4 linked regions of the Homo sapiens genome follow. The protein of the gene in region 4 interacts with the protein of the main gene of each other region in a pairwise test. Each region holds a gene or a part of one and is shown on either strand. Other genes may lie near its edges.

Region 1 (7,035 bases), about 60 Mb from region 4:
CTTACCTGGTTAGACAGGGGTTAAGAGGAAAACTCATAGTGTTAGTACAAGTTATGCGAGTTAAAACCATGGGCCACAGAAGGTAGTTCATGTGCTCATAGCATTTGAAGCAAGCATTAAAGAATGCATGTGGCTTTCCAGCTTAATGTAAAGCACATACACGTGTGAATTGATCAATTGTCATGTTAATTCCAGATACTCAAGAGAGAGCCCTAAAGGTTTATCTGACAGAGGTCTCTAGGATGAGGCATGTTTGAAATTAAGCTGGAAGTGGAGACACTTCCCAAGTATCTGAATGCAGAACCTTATTTGGCTTATTGGATATTTAAGACCAATACAGGGGGTATTAATAGTATTGTTTAGTGTGACTTATGTAAGTAGTTGTCTCATTCAACATGTTTCTTTAAATGTGCAGAAAATAGTGCCTGATATTCCTCTCCAAACCAACAGCGTAACTTTGCAGTTGGTCAGCTGCCGTCACAGCCCTATATTCAGAATGTCCAAAGTCATCCTTTCTATGACATCAACACCCACTGTCTCCGCGTAAGAGAATGGGAGCTATGACATTTTGCACAAGCTGTTGTTTAAATTCAATCCAAATCCCTCGCATTTGAAATGGAAGCTTAGCAATTTGTCTTCGTGTGTTCTCAAAGGAATTACGAAAGAGATGTTCTCAAACGTTTCTTATTCTTTGGATTAGAAAAGAACACTTGCCTTGGGAGCTTTGAGTCTCTAGCAACTTGATAAAGAAACTTGGAAAAAGTTTAAAATCTCTGACTCCAGGCTGTACTGTTTGCTTCTCAAGCCAGGTGTTTGAAACTTTTCAAAAAGGAATGTGCCATTATTTTTCATAAAATCCACATTTATTTAACTGGTGCTTCATGATGGAAATCTAACTAGAAATAGCATTCCAAAATGTAGTATTTTTTATTGTTTTCAGAAGTGATACCATAAAAGTTAATGTTCACTAAGATTTTGATATAAAAATTATATGATAAATATTGAAATTCACTGGAGCCAAACTAAAAACAGTCTGCCCTTTTTATCTCAGTAGTGAACTTTAGGGGGTTTTTTGCATGTATTTTCATAAGTGCCTTTAAATAAAGACACGGCATCCCTTTAAAATTTAGTTTACATTAATGTAAACCAGAATATTCTCAGGTCACAATGCAGTTTTATATTTGATTTGTAGGAAATAAATCTCTAGCCTGAAAGACATTCCAGCTGTTGCCTGTCTTCATGGGAGGATTGTTCACATTTTCTGAATCTCTCCCAGTGACTGCAGGAAGACCAAAGGCTGCACATTGCTTTTATGCAAGGATGAATTTTTTTAAAAGATGATTTTGGATTTTGTTTGCTTTAATGAATTTAAGCCCTATCTATTAGAGGTAAATGTCAAGAAAACTGTTGTGTTCTTTGGCTATCTGCTCTGCTGACTCCCACAGACTTTGATATGATTCATATAACTCAAACCATGATCAGGTTTGTGACGACCATATTTACAATATCGTTGGAGATCAAAAATAGCATCTCACAAAAGTTTCCCCGTCCTATACCTTCCCACATCTTATCATGGATCATGTGCAGCACAGTCACTCAATTGGCGAACATTTATTAACGGACTACTGCATTCACAGTATTATAGTAGGCATGTGAGGTCCTCCCCTGATGGGATCCTCAAGTGAGATATGCTGCTGGCATAGAGAACCCAAGGGCCTTTATGGACCCTGGCTTTTGTTTGCTTGAGCTTTTATTCAAACATTCAGTCTTTCATGCATTCAGCAAATTTTGAGCACATACTACGTGTCAGGCATTGAGCCAGACCCCAGGGTTGCTATAAGGTACAAGACAGGGCAGGTCCCTTCCATCATGGAATATGCAGTCTAACTATGTAGAGAACTTGCCCAGAGACCTATATGTACTATTAACTGGGGTTCTCTTTCCCACAGCCACACTGGCCACTGCAGTCCAAAAGAGAATTCTAAAAGGAAACAGTACAAAACAGAACATCAAAACAAAACAGACAAACAACCTGGGAACCATTAGGTTTTACACCAGAGTGAAACCCCAGAAGAGACATTCTGCAGCTGGTGAACAGCCGGCCTCATTTGTGAGCAATCTGTTCCCATCAGTGTCAGGGATTCCAGGTCGGTATGCTCAGTCCTATTCCCAGTTGGCCAGAGGCTATTTGTCCTCTAGTTCAGAAGACAAATGAGACTGGTAGGGACCGACCTAGAGAGTATTTTCTTTTATGCAAATACCCTGTTTCATACAAATAATGAAAACCATTGTATTTTATGAAAGGAGTCTTTAAATTAGTGATATTTCCAAAAATATCTCTCCCGTCTTCCCTGTACTAACCCAGTCAGGACAGGGTCACTGCTGTAATAAATAGCCCCCAATCTTAATGGCATAATCCAACACTGTTCATTTTTCACTCACCCAGAAATCAGGATTGGGCGAAGGGCTCTGCTCCACACAGTCCTCCAGGGACTCAGGCTCCTTCTATCTAGTTAAACTGATCAGGGGCCTGTTTCTACCACTTGCTAGTGATACTCTGAGCAAGTTACCTAAATCAGAGTTTTCTTATGTGAATAATATTAGGGCATCCCTCTTGGATTTTTGAGTCAATTTACTTGGCATAGAAACTGACAGGTATTAGGTACTCAATAATGTGAACTGCTGTTATTAATCTTCTACTTCTGGTAGTGCTGCCACCACCATCCCCCGAGGAGGCAGGAAGAATCCGTCAGAATTGGAAGAGTATTATAATAATAGCTAACACTTAGGAAGCTGGATAGTCTTCAAAGTTCTTTTCAAAGTAACTATTTTTTAACAACATTCTAGTTTTATAAATGAGGAAATTGAGGCACAGAGAGCTTAAACAAATTGCTGAGTGTCACACAAGTATACAATAGAGCTCTAGGCATTTGGCTTCAGAGTCCTGGCTCTTTATTCACTATACTATATTGCCTTTCAACTTGGAATATACAGCAGAGCCTCAAATACCGTCATTTCATTCAACATCGTTTTGTTGTAATGTTAATGAGAAAAAATAATTGGTTTTGTTGTCAATGATGTTGTGAGGACTTACTATTATATATTGTATTTTCCCCAGAATTAATGTTATATGTTGTGGCAGATTGTATTCAAAAATAGCCTTACAATTGAATCCATTACCACATTAAAAAAATTTTTTTTTAGAGATGGGTTCTCACTCTGTTGCCCAGGCTGAAGTGCAGTGGTGTAATCATAGCTCACTGTAACCTCAAACCTGGGCTCAAGCAATCATCCCACCTCAGCTGCTTGAGTAGCCAGGACTATAGGCGTATGCCACCATGCCCAGCTAAATTTTTGTTTTTATTTTTATAGACTTGGGGTCTCACTATGTTGCCCAGGCTGGTCTTGAACTCCTGTCCTCAAGAGATCCTCCCACCTTGGCTTCCCAAAGGGCTGAGATTACAGGCATGAGCCACTGCATTACCATATGTTCTTCTAGAATCTTGCTCCTCTCCATCAGGAGGTGAAGTCTATTGCCCCTCCCTTTGAACCTAAATGGGCTTATGATTGGTCCAACTGATAGAGTACAGTGGAAATAATGCTAGGTGACTTCCAAGGATAGATCATAAAAAGAATACAATTTTTTTCTCTCTTGCTATTCTTTTTCTTCTTGACATTTTCCCTTAGAATCCAGTCACCATATTGTAGGAAACCCAGACCACATAGAGAGGCCAAGAGTAGGTATTTCAGCCAACATCTCTTGCTAAAGTCTCAGCCGACATCCAGCATCAACTGGCAGGCATGTGAGTGAGCAAGCTGTCAGATGACTCCAGGCCCGGTCATCAGGTCTTCCTTCCCCCTCCTGATGCCAGGGAATCACAGATGCACTATCCCTGCTGAGCTCTGCCCCAGGTTGCAGTTTCATGGACAAAATAAAAGTTGTTACTGTTTTAAGCCCGTAAGATTTGGGGTGTGGGGGGGTAATTTCTTAGGCAATCAGAGTAACTGGGACATTTGGGTAATTAGAAATGAGTGAAATGCCTGTGTAGAGGGCTAAACTTCAGGTACATATGGATTATTAAATAGACTTTTGTGATTTGGCCTAACCTAACCTAATTTCTGGAGGAAAATATATTTCTGTTACCAACCAAATTACAAATGAGCTTTTGGAAATTTGGAACAATGTCCTACAGGTTAATGCTGTTGCTGGTTCTAGGAAAAGATTTGGGCTACACTGAGGCCAGACTGCATGCCTTAGCAAGATCTCGCTCATTGGCCCCCACTGACTGGGACCCTCCCTGCAGGAGAGTGCAGTGTGGATGGCAGTACTCGTATCATCTGTCCTAGACCATCATAGGACATGCTCAGTCCTCCTTGTCCACTTTGTCTCCCTCTCCCATACCTACTCTGTCTAAATTGCTGCCTACTTTTCTATTGTTAGAAACTGCTGTATCTTTGACACTATTTTGGCCCATTTCCTATGCTTCTAGGGCAATGTTTTCTGCTCTACTGGTTTGTAGTAAAGCTAGGGTATTCTCCTTAGCCAGGTAAAATTTAGCTAATTCAACAAAATCTTATGCCTCTTAACAAAATTGCCAAAATGGCAGCTGTCCCATTGGTCTGTGGCTCCATGTGTTGGTCAAATCTAGCATTTGAAATCCTCAGAAATGTGGTCCTTGTGTCCTTACTCAAAGAGGCATCCCTTTCCCTTCTGCTGTAGAGAAATCAATGCCCCAACTCTCTTCTCACTTACTTAAACTTCACCCCATCCTAATAGTCTACTCCTCTTCCCTTAAGAAGACTCTCATTCATTTATTCATTCAGCATTTGTTAACTCTGTACAGTGAGCCCTAGAGTTAAGTGCCTATGAAAATATTCCTTTCATGTCCAAGGACTGCTAAGGTTTCTCCAGCTGTTCCTCATTTGCTTACCATAGACACAGGGCAGATGTGGTGCAATCACCCAGACTTTTCAATAACCGGGATATATCCCATCTCATCCAAGATATTTCAGCTAAGTAGGATACTGCATGAGTAATATAGGACCAGCCAGTCTTTGAAAAGGTAACAGTCTAGTTAGGAAGGCTGGATGGCATCTGCATTTGAGGGCCAGAGCTACGTCTTCCACACTGGCTACAACTTCCCACAGTGCCCAGCATCATGCAGGACATACAGTGCCTCCTCTTTACATCTCTGTTAGGTGATTAGTGAACAGATTAACCCCAGAGGATATATGGCATTGAGATGACTTTGGAGAGGAAGTGAGCTTTGAGTTGGGCCTAAAGGATAGAGAGCGTCTGGCATGAGGAGCAAAAGTGAAAGGATAATCCTTCATTGAGAAGCATGATGAGAACATTCTAGTGACAGAAATAGGACACCTCCCCACCTGGAGTCAAGAACATGGTTGGGAAAAGGAAAAAATATATAATCTATATGGTGGGTCCATGGAGGATCTAGGATTTATCCACTTAAGCTGGATTTGATCTGATAGACACTAGGAAGCTGGGGAAAGCTGGGAGCAGGGAAGTGATGTACATGTTAAGTGGGGTGAGAATATTTTAGTGACTCTGTTTCTTTACACAGCTCATTTAAATCCCTGAATATGTGCTAAGTATTTTTGTCCATTTTTCTCATAGAAAAGTTTTAACTTCTTAAATTTTAAGAAATGTGAATTATCTTTTGCCCTCCGTAGGTGTGAGTAGCCATTTTAACTTTAGCTGGGTTATATCCGTAGGCAAAGCTGTGTAACTTCATAGTTTTAAACATATAACCTATTACTCATCAAAGTCATACTCATATAAGTTCCAAACCAAATGAACAAGTCAAGCCTTTAAAACATTTTCTATAAAACTATACTATAATGAGTATACAATGAAAATTTATATAAATATATATTATATGTATATTTATATATATATAAAACATACAATATATATATACTGAAACCCCTGAGACACTGCACATTATTCTGAAAAATCTTTGAATCATGTCACCAATGAAAAATTAGGTTGTGTTCAGTGAAATTTTAGTTGTAAGTTATGAGTGCATTGCATTACATTACACCTGAAATCTTTGAATACTGATCATCAATATAAGTGTCTGGCAACTATCAGAATGTTCTTAACCAGAGCATGCCATCTTTAAGAAAAATATTATAAATTATACATGCAAAAAAGTGTATATAACATATATGTACAATACAAAGAATAATAGAAAACAAATCCCTGGGTAGCCAACAAAAACACCATCTGTTAATCATTCTAGTGAAGAGTAATGCGTTGATATTGATGATAATTTCACTCTAGTAGCACACAGATTAGTACTGTCCCTAAGGTCCAACACCAGAAGAAATTGAATCGGTGATATGTTTTTTAACTATTTGATCACATAAAGATTTTAAACCAGTTGAGTCATTTATTTCAGTCTCTGATGGTGAATGAAAGGTATGTTTTCCACTTACAAAACATCACTTGCTATTGCTGCTGGCAATTGTGAAGGTTTGTAAATTGGTTTTTGTGTCGAGAGGCCTTTGCCCCAAGGCCATTGCCCATGTTGTGCTCCTTGTCACCTCCCAGCTATTCAGGAGGGAATGGTGAGGGAACCCTTGGTGAGCCCTGAGCTCTTGGTACAAGATCTGTATACTTAAGTTATTTAAAATGAATATTAATAGAAGACTAACATAAGACTATCTGAGTATATTACTAGGACTAGAAAGTCTCCCAGGTTGAATGGGACAACGTGGTACCAACCTTGGTACAAGCCCAACTGCCAGGGGTAGTTAAAGCAAACCATTCTCTCTCTCAGGGTATATATATATATTTTGGTATATTCAGAATATATTTCACAAAATAGAAGCTATTTAACCATTAAAGATGCAATCTTTGGTCCAAATTCCACTTTGCAAAAGAAATTGTCATTAGATCTGTTTGTGCCCACCTTGAAAAATGTTGATCAACTTCCAATTTTTAAAGGTCGATCTGTTACTATTTAGAAATAGAACTCTCTTTCTCCTCAGACTGTCAAAACAGCCTACGGA
Region 2 (7,035 bases), on a different chromosome or scaffold from region 4:
TGAGCCACTCGCCTGGCGAAGTTGGGTTTCTTATTTGCAACCAAAGCATTTGAACTGAGAAGGGTTCCACTATGAATTCTGTAACCATTCCACCAAAGAGGCTGTACAGTGATCCTCCCCAGAGGGCTGGAATCAGGGCCTGCCCCACCACAGAGCCAGAGGCCGACGGTCAGAAGGTGGCAACACCAAAAGTAGCAACGCTGGGCACACGGTGAAGTTTTGTTCTTCGGGTCTCACGCGTGGCGGCATGTCCAGGGCTCACGTGACCTGCCCCACGCTGCCGCCACAGCAGATGGCCAGGCCTCACCTCGTCCTCCAGCTCCAGCACCTTCTCCCGGGACTCCTCCAGCTCCTGGCTGGTCAGCGCTATGACCTCCTGCAGTTCCTTTTCCAGCAGCGTCTTGCTATGACTGACAGCCTGCAGCTCCGCCTCCAGGGCCTGGATCCTTTCCTAAGGGCCAAGATGGAACGGGCGCTTGGTCATGGGACAGGCCCTGACCCCCCTCACTTCCTGTGGTGCCGGCAGGCATGAGGCTGTGTGGCTGCACACACCAGACACCAGCTGTCTGACACAGTCTCACAACCTTCCTTTTTGTTAAAGAAGTTGAATTAACCGACCACAGCATGCACACGATGACACACGGGGATAGTTGGGACAAACAAAATCATCTCTTCAGTTCAATGCTTCAAAAATACAGAAGAAAATCTGACCTGCAGATAATGGCTATAAATCACCATCTGTGGCAAGCAAGCAGCACCAGTTGTAATAAATACCACACACATGCTCACGCACCACACATCACATACACACACTCATGTAACACACACCACGTGCACATGTTCACATCCCACACACCACACACACACGTGCTCACACCCCACACGCACATGCTCACACCCCACGTGTTCACACCCCACACCACACATGCACATGTGCTCACACCTCACACTGCATGCACACATACACCCCACACTGCATGCACACATATGCTCACATCCCACACACCATGCACACAAACACTCCACACGCTGCACACACACATGCTCACACCTCACACATGCACGGATACATGCAGGCACAGGTGTGCTCTCACACCCCGCCCACTTGCTGCCTCGATGGTACCAGGCCCTTGCCAAGCATGTTCCAGTACCACCTAACTTAACCCTTACATGAGAAGGTTCTCATTCACCTCAATTTGGCCTCATTTTGCTGAGGATCAAAAAGGTGAGAAATTTGCCAAAAGTCACCACTTGCGAGGGGTGAAGCCCGGACGGACACAAGACATCGGCTCGCAGCTGTGCTATTCCTCAGCTGCAACAGCGTGGCGAGGGGCCAGCTCTGCCCGGCCTTTGCGACCTCCCCACCCCAGCCCTTAGTGAGCCCAAAGAAAATGGCAACTGAATCAATCTCCCCAACATTTTACAAAGCAACCAGGTGAGAGGAAGCACTTGATTTATTTATTGAATTTCAGACACAGAGTCTCTATCGCCCGGGCTGGAGTGCAGCAGCAAAATCATGACTCACTGCAGTTTCAGCCTCACCTCCCAGGCTGAGGCGATCCTCCCACCTCAGTGTCTCAAGCATCTGTGTCCACAGGCACGTGCTACCATGCCTGGGTTTTATTTTTGTATTATTTGTAAATACAGGGTCTAATTATGTTGCCCAGGCTGGTCTCAAACTCCTGTGCTCAAGCGATCCTCCTGCCTCAGCCTCCCAAAGCGCTGGGATTATAGGTGTGAGCCACCGTGCCCGGCCGAGTTTATTTGACAAGAAAACCCCACGTTATGATACAGTCTCTTCCTACCCATAAATTCTTAAGTGGACAGGAGATAGAAACAAACCACATATAAGAAGAAATACTAAGTTGTCAGTGCAAGGACGTGAATTGGAGAATAATAAATAAAATGCGGATGAACTCACTCAGGTAGAATGTTATGCCTACCACGAAAGGTGACAGAGCACGGAGGGCCACGGCCTCCACGGAAGGCTCTGCTCAGAGCCCTCCAGAAAGGGCACCCGCTTGTTCTGGGCCACCGCAGCATGGCTACCTCTAAACGCTCCCTGAACCCTGTCAATCGCTGACCCCATGCCCTCACTCCTGCTTCTCAGTGAGTGCGGAGGCTGCTTTTCCTCCTGAGATGCGAGGAGGCGCAGAGGCAGCTGGAACGCGAGCGGACCAGGGCAGGCCCTCCCTCTGCCCCAAGGGAGCAGCTGAACTTCTCTGAGCCAAGGAGATTTCTTGAGGAAAATCAGGTGAACGCCACAGGCCACAGGCCATGTGGGGTTCATGAGGGAGACGCGAGGCAATGCTCAGTCACTGTGGGTTCCTGGTAACCTGGAAGATGAGCGGGAGTTTAGAGAGTTGCCACCTCCCACGCGAGCTCGGCCCCGCTAGGCTTTAGGGGACAACTGCTGATGGAGAGCCCTTCCCTGCACTGAGGGGCTGGTGACCCTGGCCGGGGATGGCACGGTGTTACCTACATGTAGAGCCAGGCTGCTGTCACTGCTGCCACCCTGGGCTCGGAGCTGGCCCAGCTCCGCGTCCGCAGCCTCCTTGGCCGCGAGGGCCTCCTGCAGGCGGCGGCTGAGGATGCCCACGGCGTTCTCGTAGGCCTTATGTTTGGTCTTCATCTCCTTCTGGGCGCTGGTCAAGTCTGAGCCCAGCCGCCTCATCTTCTGCTTCTGTTCCGTGATGGCCCTGGGGTGTCATGAGGGAGACACAGGAGGAAGCTGAATTATCCCGATGTGACCGTCTGGCATTCTGGTTCGCCTCCCCCCCGGCCCCCGCACCTCCCACCTGGCCCCCGCACCTCCCCCGGGCACATGCAGACTTACTTCCGGGCCTCTTGCTGCAACTCTTCGATTTGTTTCTTCAGCGCCTCATTGGCCTCTGTGACCGCGACCATCTGCTCCTTATCGAACTGCAACGACTGTGGAAGGGAAGGAGGGCGTGAGGAGCGGCACTGCCACCCCCAGCCTGTCTCCCCTTCCTGGCTCCAGCCCATCACCCCCACCAAAGGCACTGCTCAGGCTCGCCCTGGAGGACTTGGGCCTTGAGAAAAATCCTGAGAGAGACGTCTGCCTTCTTACAAACCACTCTTTTTTTTTTTTATTGAGATGGAGTCTCACTCTGTCACCCAGGCTGGAGTGCAGGGGCGTGATCTCAGCTCACTGCAACCTCCGCCTCCCAGGTTCAAGTGATTCTCCTGCCTCAGCCTCCCGAGTGGCTGGGACTACAGGTGCCCGCCACCATGCCCAGCTAATTTTTGTATTTTTAGTAGAGACAGGGTTTCACCATATTGGTCAGGCTAGTCTTGAACTCCTGACCTCGTGATCCACCTGCCTCGGCCTCCCAAAGTGCTGGGATTACAGGTGTGAGCCACTGCACCCGGCCACAAACCACTCATTACTGAGACCAACAAGCGTTTCCAAACACTGTCCAGAGCATCAGAGGCACAACAGGACATGACTGGTTCATAGGAAAGCCTGTGGACCCAGGACCTCTCCTCCAAACCCTCAGGACCCAGGACCCCTCCCCAGGGCCCCAGGAACCCTCCCCAAGGCCTAGGACCCCTCCTCAAGGATCCAGACCCCTCCTAGGAAACCCCAGGACCCCTCCCCAAGAGCCCCCGGGAACCCTCCCCACAAGCCCCTGGATCCCCTCCCCACAGTCCCCAGACCCCTCCCCCAGAGCCCCCAGGACCCTTCCTGAGACCCCGGGACCCCTCCCCAGAACCCCTGGGACCCTTCCCCGGAGACCCCGGGACCCCTCCCCGGAGACCACGGGACCCCTCCCCGGAGACCCCGGGACCCCTCCCCGGAGACCCCGGGACCCCTCCCCGGAGACCCCGGGACCCCTCCCCGGAGACCCCGGGACCCCTCCCCGGAGACCCCGGGACCCCTCCCCGGAGACCACGGGACCCCTCCCCGGAGACCACGGGACCCCTCCCCGGAGACCCCGGGACCCCTCCCCGGAGACCCCGGGACCCCTCCCCGGAGACCCCGGGACCCCTTCCCGAGACCCCAGGACCCTTCCTGAGACCCCAGGACCCTTCCCTGGACCCCCCCCGGATGCCCTCCTCAGGATCAACTGTGAACACTGAGGGCCGCGTCCCCGACCTGCTCCTGCCCTCGCAGCCTTTCCCCAGCTCCTGTGTGCGAGGCGAGTCCCCACAACCAGCCCAGGCCTGCAGCTGTGGGGTCCGAACGTGCTCTGCCCGCACTGCTGAGTCCTCCAAGCCTCCTACAGTCCAAAGAGCCGGCCCTCCCCTTGGCCCACCTCCCCACCCCGGCACCAGCGCTAATCCATCAGCCCTCACTTTCCAACAATGATGGTGCCGGCCACACCGCCTACTCACAGGCCTCAGCCTGGCTCCTAATGAGCCAGACATGCTGACCAATCTGCCTGCTGGGACCTTGGCTCGGTCCTCTCCGGCAACTTCAGAAACTTCATAAGCAAAACGTAGCACTTGGTCTAACGTGCCATCAGACGACTCTCCCCAAATTTACTGTTGCTCTCCTGATTTCTCGTCTCACCTCCCGGTTCCTCAGCCTGGATGTCTGGACAGGATCCTGGACTGCGGCCTCCGTCCCCCGCCTCTACCCCTCACCTGCTCTGCTACCTGCAGCCGAGAAACTGTCACCAGCATCTCGGACACCCACTGTGTGCAGAAGCCAGCCCAGGCTCAGCTTCCACAGGAACATGACTAGCTCTGGTCAGTCCCAGCTCCGCACTCAGCCACGAGGGACTCCCAGGGTCCCCGGGCCCCGACGCCCTGCCCTGACGTGGGGTCTCCACAAAACACTCACCCTTGCTTTCTGCATGACAGCCGCTGTCCTCTCACATGCTAGATCCCGGGAGCCCATGGCAATGGGGAGAAGCTGGGTGCCTCACGGGGCCTCCTCACTCCCTCCCTTCATGCACCATCACCACCTGGACTTATCAGGCCTCACCGGACTGCCCCTCTGGGACCTATGCTCCAGGTGGGCCTTGTTCCCAGCTGTTCTTCCAAAAGCCTCTCCCACCTTGGCCCCACCCCAGACACAGGCCCCGACCCAGACAGACCCCGCCCCAGACACAGGCCCCGCCCCAGACACAGGCCCCACCCTCCCGACAAGCACTTTGGCCGAATCCTCCCCATCAAATGAGTCAACCCGACACGGACAGACCTGCAAGTGTGTTTCCATCTCGTCTCGCTCCTTCTGCGCCGACTGGAGATGCCCTTCAAGGTCCGCCATGTGCTGACGGACCTGGGCCACCTCTCTGTGCAGGCGCGAGAGCTCCGCCTCGGCAGTCCGCTTCTCCCCGTGCACTTGCATCAGCTCCTGCCGCAGCTCCTTCAGCTCCGAGTCCAGCCTCTTCCTGGTGGCTTTCAGCTCACTGATGAGCTGGTCTTTGGAGGTGGCGTCGCGCCGGTAGGCCTCCACCATCACCTGCCAAAGACAGAGGCTGTGAGCGGACGCTGGGCGGCGGGGCGTGGGGGGCGTACCTGGGGGTCAAGCTGGCTTCAACAAAAATGTTTACCACTTATCGGGGGCATAACTTTTTTGAGGTAAAGATACATTTCATCAAATCTAAGACTCCATCGACTGAGACACACCACTGTTTATCCACAGGTGACATCACTGCCTGTTGAGAGACTGCGTGGTGCACAAGGCAGTCACACCGGCCTCATAGACGTCTCCTCTATTCCAAGGAGTCTGGCTCTCTCCTGACTTCAGTTGCACGGCTTTGCTTCCAACAGGTAATCCCCTTGCTTGTGGCTCAGTAATAAAGCAAAGCAGGACTCACGACACCGCTTCAGGGGCCGCCCTTGCTCAGAAATAAAATACAGCAGGCCGGGCGCGGTGGCTCACACTTGTAATCCCAGCACTCTCAGAAATAAAATACAGCAGGCCGGGCGCGGTGGCTCACACTTGTAATCCCAGCACTCTGGGAGCCCGAGCTGGCTGATCACCTGAGGTCAGGAGTTCAACCAGCCTGGCCAACAAGGTGAAAACCCCATCTCTACTAAAAATACAAAAAACTAGCCAGGCGTGGTGGTGCATGCTTGTAGTCCCAGCTACTCACGAGGCTGAGGCATGAGAATCATTTGAACCTGGCAGTTGGAGGTTGCAGTGAGCGGAGACAGCACTACTGCACTCCAGCCCGGGCGACACAGCCAGACTCTGTCTCAAAAAAACTAAATTACAGGCCGGGCGTGGTGGCTCATGCCTGTAATCCCAGCACTTTGGGAGGCCAAGGTGGGCGGATCACGAGGTCAGGAGATTGAGACCATCCTGGCTAACACGGTGAAACCCCGTCTCTACTAAAAATGCAAAAAAAAATTAGTCGGGCGTGGTGGCCGGTGCCTGTAGTCCCAGCTACTCAGGAGGCTGAGGCAAGAGAATGGCGTGAACCTGGGAGGCGGAGCTTGCAGTGAGCCGAGATCGCACCACTGCCCTCCAGCCTGGGGTACAGAGCGAGACTTCATCTCAAAAATAAAATAAAATAAAATACAGCAGCGCTCACAACGCTGCTTCAGGGGTCACCCTCGCTCAGAAATAAAACACAGCAGCACTCACAATATAGCTTCGGGGTCACCCTTGCTCAGATCCCATAAAATCCAACAGGAGGTACTGGCTTCACTGACACAAAATTTATATTCCGTGTCTTTTTGGATAACCAAAATTTGTTTCAATGCTGGAACTCTATGTGCATTTTTCAAAGACATTTTAAATGGCAAACCCAACCTGTGTGTTAACAACACTGCACAACACACAGCTCCCTGGAGTGAGCACAACAGGGTATGCTGACAGGCGCTCCAGTGACAGCCGCCCCTGGAGATCTGAGGGGCCAAGACCCCCACCCCACTGTGGAAGTGTGTCTTGACTTTGCAGATTAAGTACCTTTAAAAAAAGTTAAAGAGGGCCGGGCGCGGTGACTCATACCTGTAATCCCAGCACTTTGGGAGGCCGAGGAGGGTGGATCACCTGAGGTCAGGAGATTGAGACCATCCTGGCTAACACGGAGAAACCCCATCTCAAAATACAAA
Region 3 (7,307 bases), on a different chromosome or scaffold from region 4:
AGGTATAAAAAGACAGTCAGATGTACTTTACAAAAAATTTAATTGTGGCAAAAAATTAACAAAATTTACCAACTTAACAAGTTTTATGTGTGCAGAGCAGATGTGTTAAATATAATCACATTGCTGTGTAATGAATCTCCTGGGTTCAAGTGACCCTCCTACCAGAGTTTCCTGAGTAGGTGGAACTATAGGCGCCCTATACCACATTTTGTTTATCTGTTCATCTGTAGAATCAATGGACATTTGGATTGCTTCCACCTCTTGGCTATTGTGAATAATGCTGTTAATGAACATGGGTGTGCAAATATCTCTTCCAAGATCCAGTTTTGAATTCTTTTGGATATGTACCCAGAACTGCTGGATCAGATAGTAATTCTACGCTTGATTTAGCACAAATTTTGTCAATCCAAAGAGCTGAAAGCTAACATAGAAGTATAGTATATTTTTAAAGAGTCAGTTCATATTTGTGAGCTCAACATAAACATCTGACAAATTTTCCATTAAAAAAATTTTTATGTGTTCATTGATTCACATACATCTTAGCACGCTAATTCATTATTATTTTAACCCCTACAAAGAAGGGTAGAAAATAGGAAAAACATGATTCTATTCTAGACTTGGGTCTAACCTGTAACAATTCACCTAGCCTTCCTTATGACTGCCCTATTACTTACCATAGCTATTGCAAAGATGAATGGGTTAATATTTTAAATTTGTGTATGAGCTACTAAAAAGAAAAAGCAGTGGACAATGAATCACAGAACTTTGTAGCAGTAGGTTCTATGATTTATTTTCTAGTGTTTTCCCTTTTTTGAAATACATATACGATGTACACACACACAAATGTAAAATATTAACTTAGAATTTAAAAAAATTAAAAAGATTTTAAAATAACACATTTATCTCTGCAATAAATGAGAGCCTTTGGCTTTGCTGTTAGACGTGATTACACTTAGACCAATTCAGAAAAGATTTCAAGAAAGGAAGAGTACACAGCTTTACCTGGGTAAATCAAAAAACTTGTAAAGTTTCTATCATTATCATGAAATTCATTTAAAATGAATTGTGGTTATTAACCTGCTTCCTCTGGCTCTATATCCAAAGACTTAGAGAATAACTGTCCACTCATATTTTGGATAATTACTTTCCTTTTAATAATAAAATTTCAATAAATAACTAAATTTTGAAGATTCATGTAGGGCATATATATGTTGATTATGGAAAGGGAAAGTACCATTTAGAGCTAGAAAGAGGTTTATTTGAGTCAAATAAAATGGCTATTTTACCAAATAGGAAGCAAATTCTTAAGGACTCTACACCCAAAAGCAGTTAGTGGCTGAAAACAAACAGATTTTAAAAGGGTTCAATTATGGGAACAAATGTGTAATGTCCAAAATAGTCTTTATTGGAGATAAGGATTAAGGCTAAGTCTCTATTTTTCATCCCATAAAAATCTATTTACATCTCTTTCAGAGAGAGAGAGTTTTGAGGAAAGAAAACTGAATTTGATGAACAACGGATCTGATTTAGGATGCCAATTGCAAATAATGATAGAAAACGGATTTTTTTTTTTTGGTGCAAAATTTCATGGATAAAAATGAAAAACTTAAATGACCTCTCCTCTCCAACAGTACAGAAAATTTTGCCTGAATTTACCTAAAGTCTACGCCACGGACTTGATTCAGTGAAATAGGATGGTTGGGCAGGGCACTGAACCAGGGATCAAACTTAAGAGATGTGTGGTCGCATGACTGCAATTGAACTAGAAGCATTACATCAGGACTGACCACCTTGGCTAAACCATAGACTTTGTCCAGACAGTCTGCCCACTTAGATATATTACAAGGGGATCATCAAACTGGTGGGAGTGGCTGAAACACCGAAATGATAACCTCCTTGTTGACTCCCACAGATCCAAGCCATAAGTGTTCCCATTTAGTTAAAAGCTACCGTTGCCCGCCACTAGCATGACTTACTTGGTAGGAGGGATGTCTGTAGAGAAAAGGTCTATTTCAGTATCAGCCAGCAAAACAGCCTTCATTCCCCTAGAGCTGAGCACTTGTTTACAGAATTTGCAACACAGGATGGACACGCACCTGTCCTTGAAACTACAAATGTTGGTGGACATGGCGTCGCAGGAAGGATGAGGTGTGGGATTTTGAAAAAGGAAACAAGAGTAATGCTCCTACTATTTTGATTCCCCTAGGCTAAAATTCAAATTGCGGGACCTAGAGCTTTTCTAAGTCCTAATATTGGGAAGGAAATTAGTTTTTTTTTCTGTTTTCCCGGTGGCGGAGTAGAAGAAGTATTTATTGAGTAGGAACAGGGGAGCGTGGTAAACTTGGCTTTCCTTTTAACTTTTGGAGAAGGGAGTGGAGTTTGAATTGGAGAGGAGGCAGGTGGAGTTTGAAGGGAACTTCTCAACGGCTTTCCCTTTCTGCTGTCTAAAGGAGTCCTCTACACTTCAGCTCCCGCCCCTTCATAGCAATTCCCTCAGCCTTCTCCGATCGTCTAATTTAAAGCTTCTCCTCTTTTAAGACATCCCTTCCCCAGCATTAAGCCCCTCCCCCGGAGCGCTCCGGTTCCCTGCTGTCGGATCTCGGGCTAAGCGTCCCTACCCACGCCTCCTCTTCCCAGGATTCAGAAACTCCCTTCTCTTTTTCTGCCAGGCGATCCCGGATTCTCCTCCGTCCCGCCCCTTTTCTCCCGGACCTTCCTCCGCTCTGCGGGTCCGCGGGCCCCTCTCCTGGCAACCCCCGGCCCTCAGCGTGCTCGCGCTGTTTCTCTCGCGTCCTCCCTTCCCTCAGCTGTCCCTCGTGCCCCCCGCAGTCCCCTCAGGTTTCTTCCCGGAGCGGCTGTTCCCGGGCGCGCGGTGGTGTTGGTGGGGCAGAGCTGAAGTCGCTTTAGAGGCTCAGTCGGCGCTGGGGTCTGTCACCGAACACGTTGGTTTTCGCTCCCTCTTCCGCTTTTCCTGCCTCTCCAACCCGGTATCAGTTTGAATTGCCAGCGCCGCGCACCGATTGGAAGAACTAGAGTTAGCCCCAGTCCCTCATTGGAAGGCTCCGGGGCCTCCCCTCACGAGAGCTTAGTGGCTTGAAGACCGTAGGCACCGCCCCAGTAACGGTGCTGAGATCAATTCGGCTTTCTGGTCGGCTGAGCTTGGCTCCGCCTCCGATCTCATTGGCCGGCTTCGGGAGGTTTCGGCAAACCCTGCTTTAGCCCTAGTGAAAGTGGCAAGGCACGCCCTTCCCGCTTCTTATTGGAAGAGGGTCTACAGTCTCCACCGGTCTCTACTCTTTATTGGTTAAAATTCCCCGCAACACCCCTCCTCTCTACCCCGGCCCAATTGGCCGTGCCTCAGCTCAAGAGTTTGTGTTTGGTCGTCGGTTCCACCTTAATCCCGCCCATCAGTTCTACTTAGGGGTTCAACAACCCGGGGTGGAGCTTAATCTGTGACCACGCCTCGGCAGTGCTAGTCACACCTCCAAGTTTTGCCAGCTCCTCCCCCTCATTCCGGGCCTCTCGGGATCAGCTCTTCCTATTGGCTATGGGCCCCATCGGTCGATAGAAAACGGGCGGTGATTGGTAAAGGGGTGGGCTCTACTTCCCGGCGGGGTCCTGCGGAGTTGGCGGAGGCTCCTCCAGGGACTGGGGCACAGATCTGCGTAGAAACGGGTGGCGGGGAAGAGAGGGGAGGAGAGCTCTGAGTGGGAAGCGGAGCCGGGGGCCTGGGACCCGTCGCGTCAGAGCCAGGTAAAGGCTCCTTCCCTCTTCCTTTTCTTCCTCCCGGCCGCCGGGCTGGAGCCCTGACTGAACAAACCCGGGCTGGGGCGGGAAGGAGAGGGCGCGGATGCTGCTCGCGGCATCGCCTTAGCGGTGCCGCCCGGAATCCCTCAGACCGCCCCTCCTCCACCCTCTCCAAATCTCCCAGTACAGCCCATAATACTTCTCAGGACTGCGAGTCTCTCCGCCCATCACTGTACAGCCTGGGACTCTGTCCTGGCTCACGGACCGCAGCGCAGCCGGCACCCAGCCGCCTCTCCCTTTCCTCCGCACACGGGCAGCCGCGGTCCACCGTAGGGCAGTCGTCGTTGGCATCGCGCGTAATCATCGGCCGGCCTCCTCCAGTGTCTCCCAGCCCTGGCGGACAGCCCGGGTCCCAGCCTAGGACCCAGGAGGATGGGTGTTCCGCGCAGCTTCCGGGGCTCTCCCCGAGTCCCACCCCCCGGCCCGCCCCGATGGACTTCTCTTCGCCCACTCCCATCCCTAGACCACATCTCGGCCCCCACAGTTCCTGACATCCTTGCGCTTCACGCAACATCGCGGCCCATGATCATGCCCCAATTCCCCTCACCTCTAAGGCAGCCTTCTCCTTGCCGCCTCCCGCCTTCCGAGCGTGTGCAACTCCAGTTGTCCCCGGGCTCCCTTCCAGCCTCAGGACCCCATCTCACACCCGCCTCTCGCTTCCCGCTTCCCGCTCGCCTGAACCCCGCCGCCTCTGCTCCCTGTCTTGTTCCCTCAGCGTGGCCCCTTCCTCCAGCCGCGGGAAGTGGGAGACGCTAGCGGGAGCTTCCTCCTCCCGGCGCTCGGAGGAAAAGGAAAGACCAAGTAGAAAGGGTCGCCGCTGCGGCACGCGAGGGAGCTAGTCGCCGGGCTCCGCGCTCCCGCTTGCGTCCCTCCAGCCCCCTGGGCCTCGTCCGGGGCCGGATCTTCTCGGGCACCGCCTGGTGCGAGGAGTCAGGACTGCGACCTCACCGACCTCCTCCCATCCCCAGCCTGGGATTGGGTGGGATATCTGGGATCTCTGAGCTTGGGTGTCAAAAAAATATTGGGGGTGGCATTTATAGTCACTATCGTCCCTAGCTTGAGGGAGGCGACGGCTGCCTTCCGCTCGCCGCCCCCCGGTTTTCCCGGCTCCGACCCTATCCTCTAACCCGTTTCCTGCTTCAGCTGACCACATTGTTTTCCTGGATGTGTCCCGTGCCGAGCAGGCTTTTTCCTGCAGATTTGCCCCGCCCCCCCATCAACATTTTGCTGCCAAGAGAAGCTAGTAACCAAAAACAAAACAACTGGGAGGAGGGGCGGGAGAGGAAGAAAAGTTGTGCCCTGGTGGCTTGTCCCTCCCCGGCTTTGATCCCCTTTGATGTACAGGGAGGTGCCCCGGCCGGGGGTCTGGGGCCACGTCGGGGGCTAGGTCGGGAGGGCTCCCTCGGGCTGGCCGCTGCCCAGCGCTGGCGGGGCTCAGCAGGCCGCCGAGGTGCCGCATTCCCCGCCCGGTGCCCCGCGTTCCTGCAGTTCCCGCCCGGAGCCCGCGCAGGCGGCTGCTCCAAAGTGTTTTCTTTCAGCCTTAAAATCCGGAGGGAGCTTCCTTCCTCCCCACCTCGTAGCGCCAGGCTCTGCGGGCGGGGAGACGTTAAGCGGACAGGAATGGGCCCAGGGCGGGCTCGGAACGACGTCCCCTACCCCACCCCCGCCGCGATTAGGATCTGCGCTCTGGCTGATCGCCCCCTCCCCCTTTTCCTGCATTTACAGGCAAGTGAACCGGAGCAAACGACTTCCGATCCAGTCTGCGCTGTTGCGGCTCCCGTTTGGGATTTGATTTGCAGCATCTTTGAGCCTCTACGACAAAAAACCGCGAAGCACGCCCAGCCCTCCCCCGGCACCCCGAAAAGCACCCACTCCCTCCCGGGGACACAGCTGGGCGCGTCCACACCCCCGCAGCCCCACACCATGTTGTGCGGAAGGACTTCCACTCCCCGCCTGTGTCGTTGATGTCAGACCCCAGGCCAGCCTCCGGGCGCTGCAGTTCTCCCGGCTAATGCTGAGGCTGCGGCTCCGGCTCTAGCACAGGCACCAGCCGCCGCCGCACCCGGCCTCAGCGCCCACCGTCTGCATGTGCCCGCCGTAGCCGTCTGCCCAGCCCGCAGCCCGCGCTCCACGGAGCGCTGGAGACCACCGTGGGGGGCCCCTTCTGCCCTCGAGAGAAGCGGTCTTGGAGGTATTGATTTAGGTGGTTGGATTTTTTCCGTGGATCTATCAATTCACAATTCGAATTTGGAAGAAAGAAGGAAAACATGACGTCTCCAGCCAAATTCAAAAAGGATAAGGAGATCATAGCAGAGTACGATACTCAGGTCAAAGGTAAGGGTTTTGAAAAATAGCACACTGCAAATGCTCTGTGGACTGGTGAGGCGTGTATTTCCACCGTGATTTGCAGGTTGTTCATTTCTTTGGGTGGAGCAGATGGGGGCAGGCTGACCCCAGAGGTGGTTTCATAGATGGGTCTGAACCTCCAAAGGATGGGCAATGCCAGGGGGCCATTGACACTGGAAAGGAATTTTTGCAGTGGGCTGTAGGAGTATCTTTGTGGGGCTGACCATGATTTTGGCAGCCCTTTCCCCCCAAGCCGGGCAGGGTGGGGGGAGGGGCAGGAGGCTCTTAGAGAAAGGCAGTTTGCCTCCGGTTCTCTGGGTCAGGTTTCCTTGAAAGACAACTGAAATCTGACAGGTGTTTGGACATTTGTTTCAGAGATTGAAGAGGAGTCCAGACAGAAAGGCAACCTTGGGAAGGTGTACCATTTGGAGAGCCTTGGGAGAGGCGGGGTTTTTTGGATGCACTATATTAAAACATGAGATTTGCAATGGCATTGGCACCAAAAGTCCATTGCCACCTTGGGTGTACCTTGTACCTGCCTGGTCTCTGGTCGGCCTGCATACAATCAGAGATCAGAGAATAAGGCCACCCACGCCCGGTCTCCGCCCTCACCTAAATCTGAATAGAGTTGGGAGGATGTTAGGGTAGCCGGTTGGTGCTGATTCTGGAAAATGGGAAGACATAATTGTTTAACCCTTCTGTGCTGTGGCCCTCTGCTCCGGAAGACATGCTTTTAAAGCCCCATTTCCCTCTCCTGAAAAATGTGAAGGGTAAAGCAAAGTGTGGACTAGGAGAAACCAAGTGACCTGTCTTCTCATCTAGTCGACTGACTTGACTCATGAATAAGAGCCCTTACTCAGATAGCGTTTTTTAAACCAGCAATTCCCATAGGAAGGGTTCCTGCCTGTTAAAGAGCTGCAGCATGTGTTTGTGCAAGGCACTGTCCTTTCCTGGTCAGTCACTGGAAAGAGCCATGTGGCTCCAGCCCATTGAGACCTTAGCTGGGGAGTGGAAGAGGTGGGTGGCCTTGAATGTTACACCACATGGTTGGAGCTCTGGGTTTTCCTTTGTTTCAGAGTACAGAGGGAGGGGCCCCTCCTTTCCCTGCACCAGTGCAAGGAGACCTTTTCCTATCAGAGAGGACTTGGGAAGGG
Region 4 (3,934 bases):
GGTCTCCTTCTCATTCTGGATGCCCCCCATTTCTGCCAGACCCCCAGCCATCTCTGTGGCCAGGCCCCCAGACCCCAAGCCGCCCCAGAAACTGGTAGAACAGGACATGGAGATCTGGGATCCCAAGCCCCCCAGTGCCTGCATAGATGCTGGCTGCGCTGCTGACCGGCCAGGTGCCATAGCTGGGCGGCTGGACAGAGCCCAGGGACTGGTAGTTGGTGGAGAAGGTGGAGGGAGTGGTGAAGCTCATGCTGTCCGGGGAAGAGAGCAGGCTTTGTCAACGACTACTCCTTAATTTTTACTTATAATATACCTGCTGTTGTAAGATAAAGCAGGTAAGAAATTGAGAGGTGTGACATAGAAATGTAAGATGTTTATTTTAAAACACTAAGCTACATTGTACGGTACACTACTACAATTCTAGTATTATCTGACAAATTTAGTGTCCTATCATTTACCACTTTACCATCATTTACTACCAAATCCCACCAAATATGACACAGAGACAACTTGTTTAAGAAAAGTTTTATTAATGTGTTAATATTTCAGCAAAGTTATTGCAACAGGTTGAAAATGCAGACACACTATTACAGGCTGTAAAGTAACAAATGAGTTTTACACAATTAAAATATTAACACATACTTATGGGATTTGTTGAATGACTAACAGACCCATAAAAGAAATTAAATCTGAGACGAAATCCAGTATTAGCACCTACAATATATCTGACAGTGAAACTTTTAATGGTTTCTCTCTCCTAATGTATTTTTAAACTCTCTCCCAAATACAGCGCTCTCAAACCCCAAGGATAAACGAAAGGCATAAGCAGCCCCGATCCTAGGAACGTACAGCCAAAAGCAGAGCTACAAATATGGACTCAGACTTGAGAGTTTTACTGAGAAGTAACTTACTGTACTTGAGCCAATCATAAGATTTCTGTGCACTGAATACTGTATATGAGAAAATTCTGTGGGTCATAAGGTTTGCCTTAGGGATAGTTAAAAATTAGTAATATACAGTATTATTCCTATCAAATTTTTTTCTCATAAGTTATATTTATAACAAAACTATAATTAAAATATTTTTTATACCTGCTTATTCCATATCCAGGGACACAGCGGGAACATTTATGTGTCTGATGGTTTGGCATCCACTTTATTGTGCTTACTGATTTTTGTGATGAACAAGCAGCACGTATCATATCTTTCCAACATTCAAGGTAATGGAACAATGACATAAAATTCTCCAAAGAAATAACTGGAAATTGCATTAAATACTGCTTTAATTAGGCATAATTGCTATAATAAAACAAATAACATTATACATTTTTTTTTCAATAAGCTTCAGTTTGAGGAACTGAATAGTAGAAACAGATCTTAAGATTTGAGTCATGGTAAAACCAGTAATTCTTTGAAATCTGGGAGGTGCAAAACGACAGCCACAGCCAACCCTCACCAAAATCCTGGAGAAAAACATTTTATTAATTTAGGGGAACAAGATAGAACACTGGTGAAGATACGGCTTGTTGAGGTCTAAAGCCACCTGAGAAGCTGGCCCAAGGAATGAAGAGAACCAATGGTATGTACTGGTGGCAGATAACAAGCTTTGCACTGGGCTGACCAACTGTGTTTTATTAAATGGCTTTGAATAAAAAAAAGTGAAGTGCTTCATTGTGTTTTCTCAGAAACTAATCAAAAGATTACAGAGTCCTACACAATTTGGAGACACAAAGTGGATGCTGAGCGACTAGAGGTCACTCCAGGTGTGGAATTTTAGAAAGTGAGTCCTTGGAGTAAATGGCACCGTGGCTCTGGCAGCAGATAGAAAGGAATGATGCTCTGGAGAGGAGGTAGGGACACTCTGCGGTCGGCCAGTGGATACATGAGGGGCCCGGCTGGAAGTGGGATCTGTAATTAGAGGGAGAAGTAAAGGTTTGATAGAGATCCTGAAAATAACTTGTAAAACCATTTTTCTTCCATCAACTGATATCAGCTTATAACATGTGGTCTATGTTCTACTAACCTAGAATTTTATCTACTAAAATATCTTGGTACCATTTGTCTAAATGAGTCTACAGCTCAATAGTCTACAAATCTAAGTCCTATATATTCAGATCTCTGACCAAGCACATCACCATGGAGCCACGCTGCCTTGACTGCTGTCTACTAGCTGTTTGTCCTTGGGCCAGCAACTTAAGTTCTCTCTGCCTCGGCTTCCTCATCTGAAAAACAGGGATAACAATATCTACCTCATAGGGTTGTTGTGATGATTAAAATTAAGCATTTAGAATAGTGCTGGCACAGATGTGCCAACAAACATTAGCTGTTTTTATTATCACTAGTTGTGATGGAATAATCATGTATTCCATTTTATATAAAGATGGCAATCTTAATCCAGAGAGAAAACACCAGTGCATGTAACAATAACAATGTGATAATAAAGATATATGCAAGATATTATAAAAATTAAGCTTAAAGAAAGGCATTTTTGTTTAAAGCTCCTTTTAAAAATAAAGGCCATCCTCATGTTTGTGTAGTCTTTTGTTAAGTCACTAATTCCCACATATTGCTTCAAATTGCAGACACCTTGCAGACTGAAGAAAAATGGAAGAATTGAATAAATTATGCTTAGAGTTTCCTCCCCTTCTCTAAGATCTCAGCTCACATTGCATCCTGGACCTTGGGAACACCCAAATCCCAAAACGAAATTGTGTTGAACAAAAATATCTGCATTCATGAAAGAGGGTATCCAGAAGTTATTAATGTAAATCTTTCCCATTTCAAAATTCTAGTTATTTGAATATTGATAGATTAGCCTCTGGTGTGTAATTGCTCAAACCTCACACATCAGAAAAACACATGATTACACAATAGCTGCAAAATGAGTCATGACAAATGGGCTGTGCCAAGTCATCGCAGCTGCAACTGATATACAAACCATGGCATGGAACAAAAGCCACACAGAAGGTTGCTGGTTGTTTGAGAAGTATCAGTTTGAAAATTGTACATGAGAAAGCGTATGGACAAGTAACACTAAGTATTCCAAAACAAAGCCTTTTTAAGGAAATACAACATATGGCAGAGGATAGATATCATGATTTAGATCTTTGGCTTTCAGGAATTCAGGTGACACATTCACTAGTGCTAAAGAAGGCAGCTCTGGAATGTTGCATGGCTTACAGGATTGAATAAATCATACAGGAGCAGACAAAATGTATTCTTTTTTAAAGTATTGAAAAAGAAGAGAAGGGGATAAACCTCTAGAATTATCTGATGAACTCTTCCCTTTCTCCATGTTCCTGCTGCTGCAAGTACTGAGAGGAAGTACGGTGTAAAAGACAGGGGTTTTATGATCAATCAGACTTGGGTTCATATCCCAATACTCGTTAACTGTGTGACTGTGAGAACATCATTTAATCTATTTGTATCCAAGTTTGCTCATCTATAAAATGGGGAAATACTTTGTAGGGTTCTTGTGAGATTCAGAAGTACCATTTGTACAATACCAGGCACATAGTACGTGCCCTCAAAATGGTAGCTGTTATTGATGTTGCCCTAGGAAGACATGTGTCTGCTTTGGTACATTCTGTGTCTGTGCTGTCTATTAATTAGTGACAGATACCTATAAGCACAGTCAACTAGAAAAGCGCAGCAGCAGAACACTTTCTGTAGGAAGACCACGTAACTAAAATTGGCAGAAATAGTGAAGTGCTACTTCCTGTCACTTAGAAGGCTATGCTAAAGTACTTAGGGCTTCAACGTGACTCTGCCTAGAGATTCTTAGTAGTATTAATTTGTTTCTTACTCATTAAAGGGCAGCATCTGGATATTTAAGGACATTAATACTTTAAACAAAGGAATGAAATTTATGTTTCTACTCAGTAGGTAAGGTTTCTTCCACAGGGGTCTGAAGCCACTTAAACATAATAAATGAA

The links.
Region 1: the proteins of GOLGA7 (region 4) and NCALD interact in binary tests that used the Homo sapiens proteins (3 or more experiments, as listed by UniProt).
Region 2: the proteins of GOLGA7 (region 4) and GOLGA3 interact in a two-hybrid assay, tested with the Homo sapiens proteins (one study listed by BioGRID).
Region 3: the proteins of GOLGA7 (region 4) and FAM72D interact in binary tests that used the Homo sapiens proteins (3 or more experiments, as listed by UniProt).

Annotation. Positions count from the first base shown.
Region 1 is NC_000008.11:101,780,967-101,788,001, reverse strand, and holds part of NCALD (neurocalcin-delta), read left to right. Parts: intron 1-1,949; exon of another isoform or gene 1,950-2,147; intron 2,148-7,035. UniProt on the Homo sapiens protein: May be involved in the calcium-dependent regulation of rhodopsin phosphorylation. Binds three calcium ions.
Region 2 is NC_000012.12:132,783,857-132,790,891, forward strand, and holds part of GOLGA3 (golgin subfamily A member 3), read right to left. Parts: intron 5,435-7,035; coding exon 5,171-5,434; intron 2,932-5,170; coding exon 2,837-2,931; intron 2,700-2,836; coding exon 2,483-2,699; intron 452-2,482; coding exon 308-451; coding exon of another isoform or gene 170-307; exon of another isoform or gene 12-169; intron 1-11. UniProt on the Homo sapiens protein: Golgi auto-antigen; probably involved in maintaining Golgi structure.
Region 3 is NC_000001.11:145,091,669-145,098,975, reverse strand, and holds the start of FAM72D (protein FAM72D), read right to left. Parts: upstream 3,003-7,307; 5' UTR 2,129-3,002; coding exon 1,977-2,128; intron 1-1,976. Other genes in the region: SRGAP2B (SLIT-ROBO Rho GTPase-activating protein 2B), read left to right, coding at 6,075-6,141.
Region 4 is NC_000008.11:41,507,557-41,511,490, reverse strand, and holds the end of GOLGA7 (golgin subfamily A member 7), read right to left. Parts: intron 1,908-3,934; 3' UTR 511-1,907; downstream 1-510. UniProt on the Homo sapiens protein: May be involved in protein transport from Golgi to cell surface. The ZDHHC9-GOLGA7 complex is a palmitoyltransferase specific for HRAS and NRAS.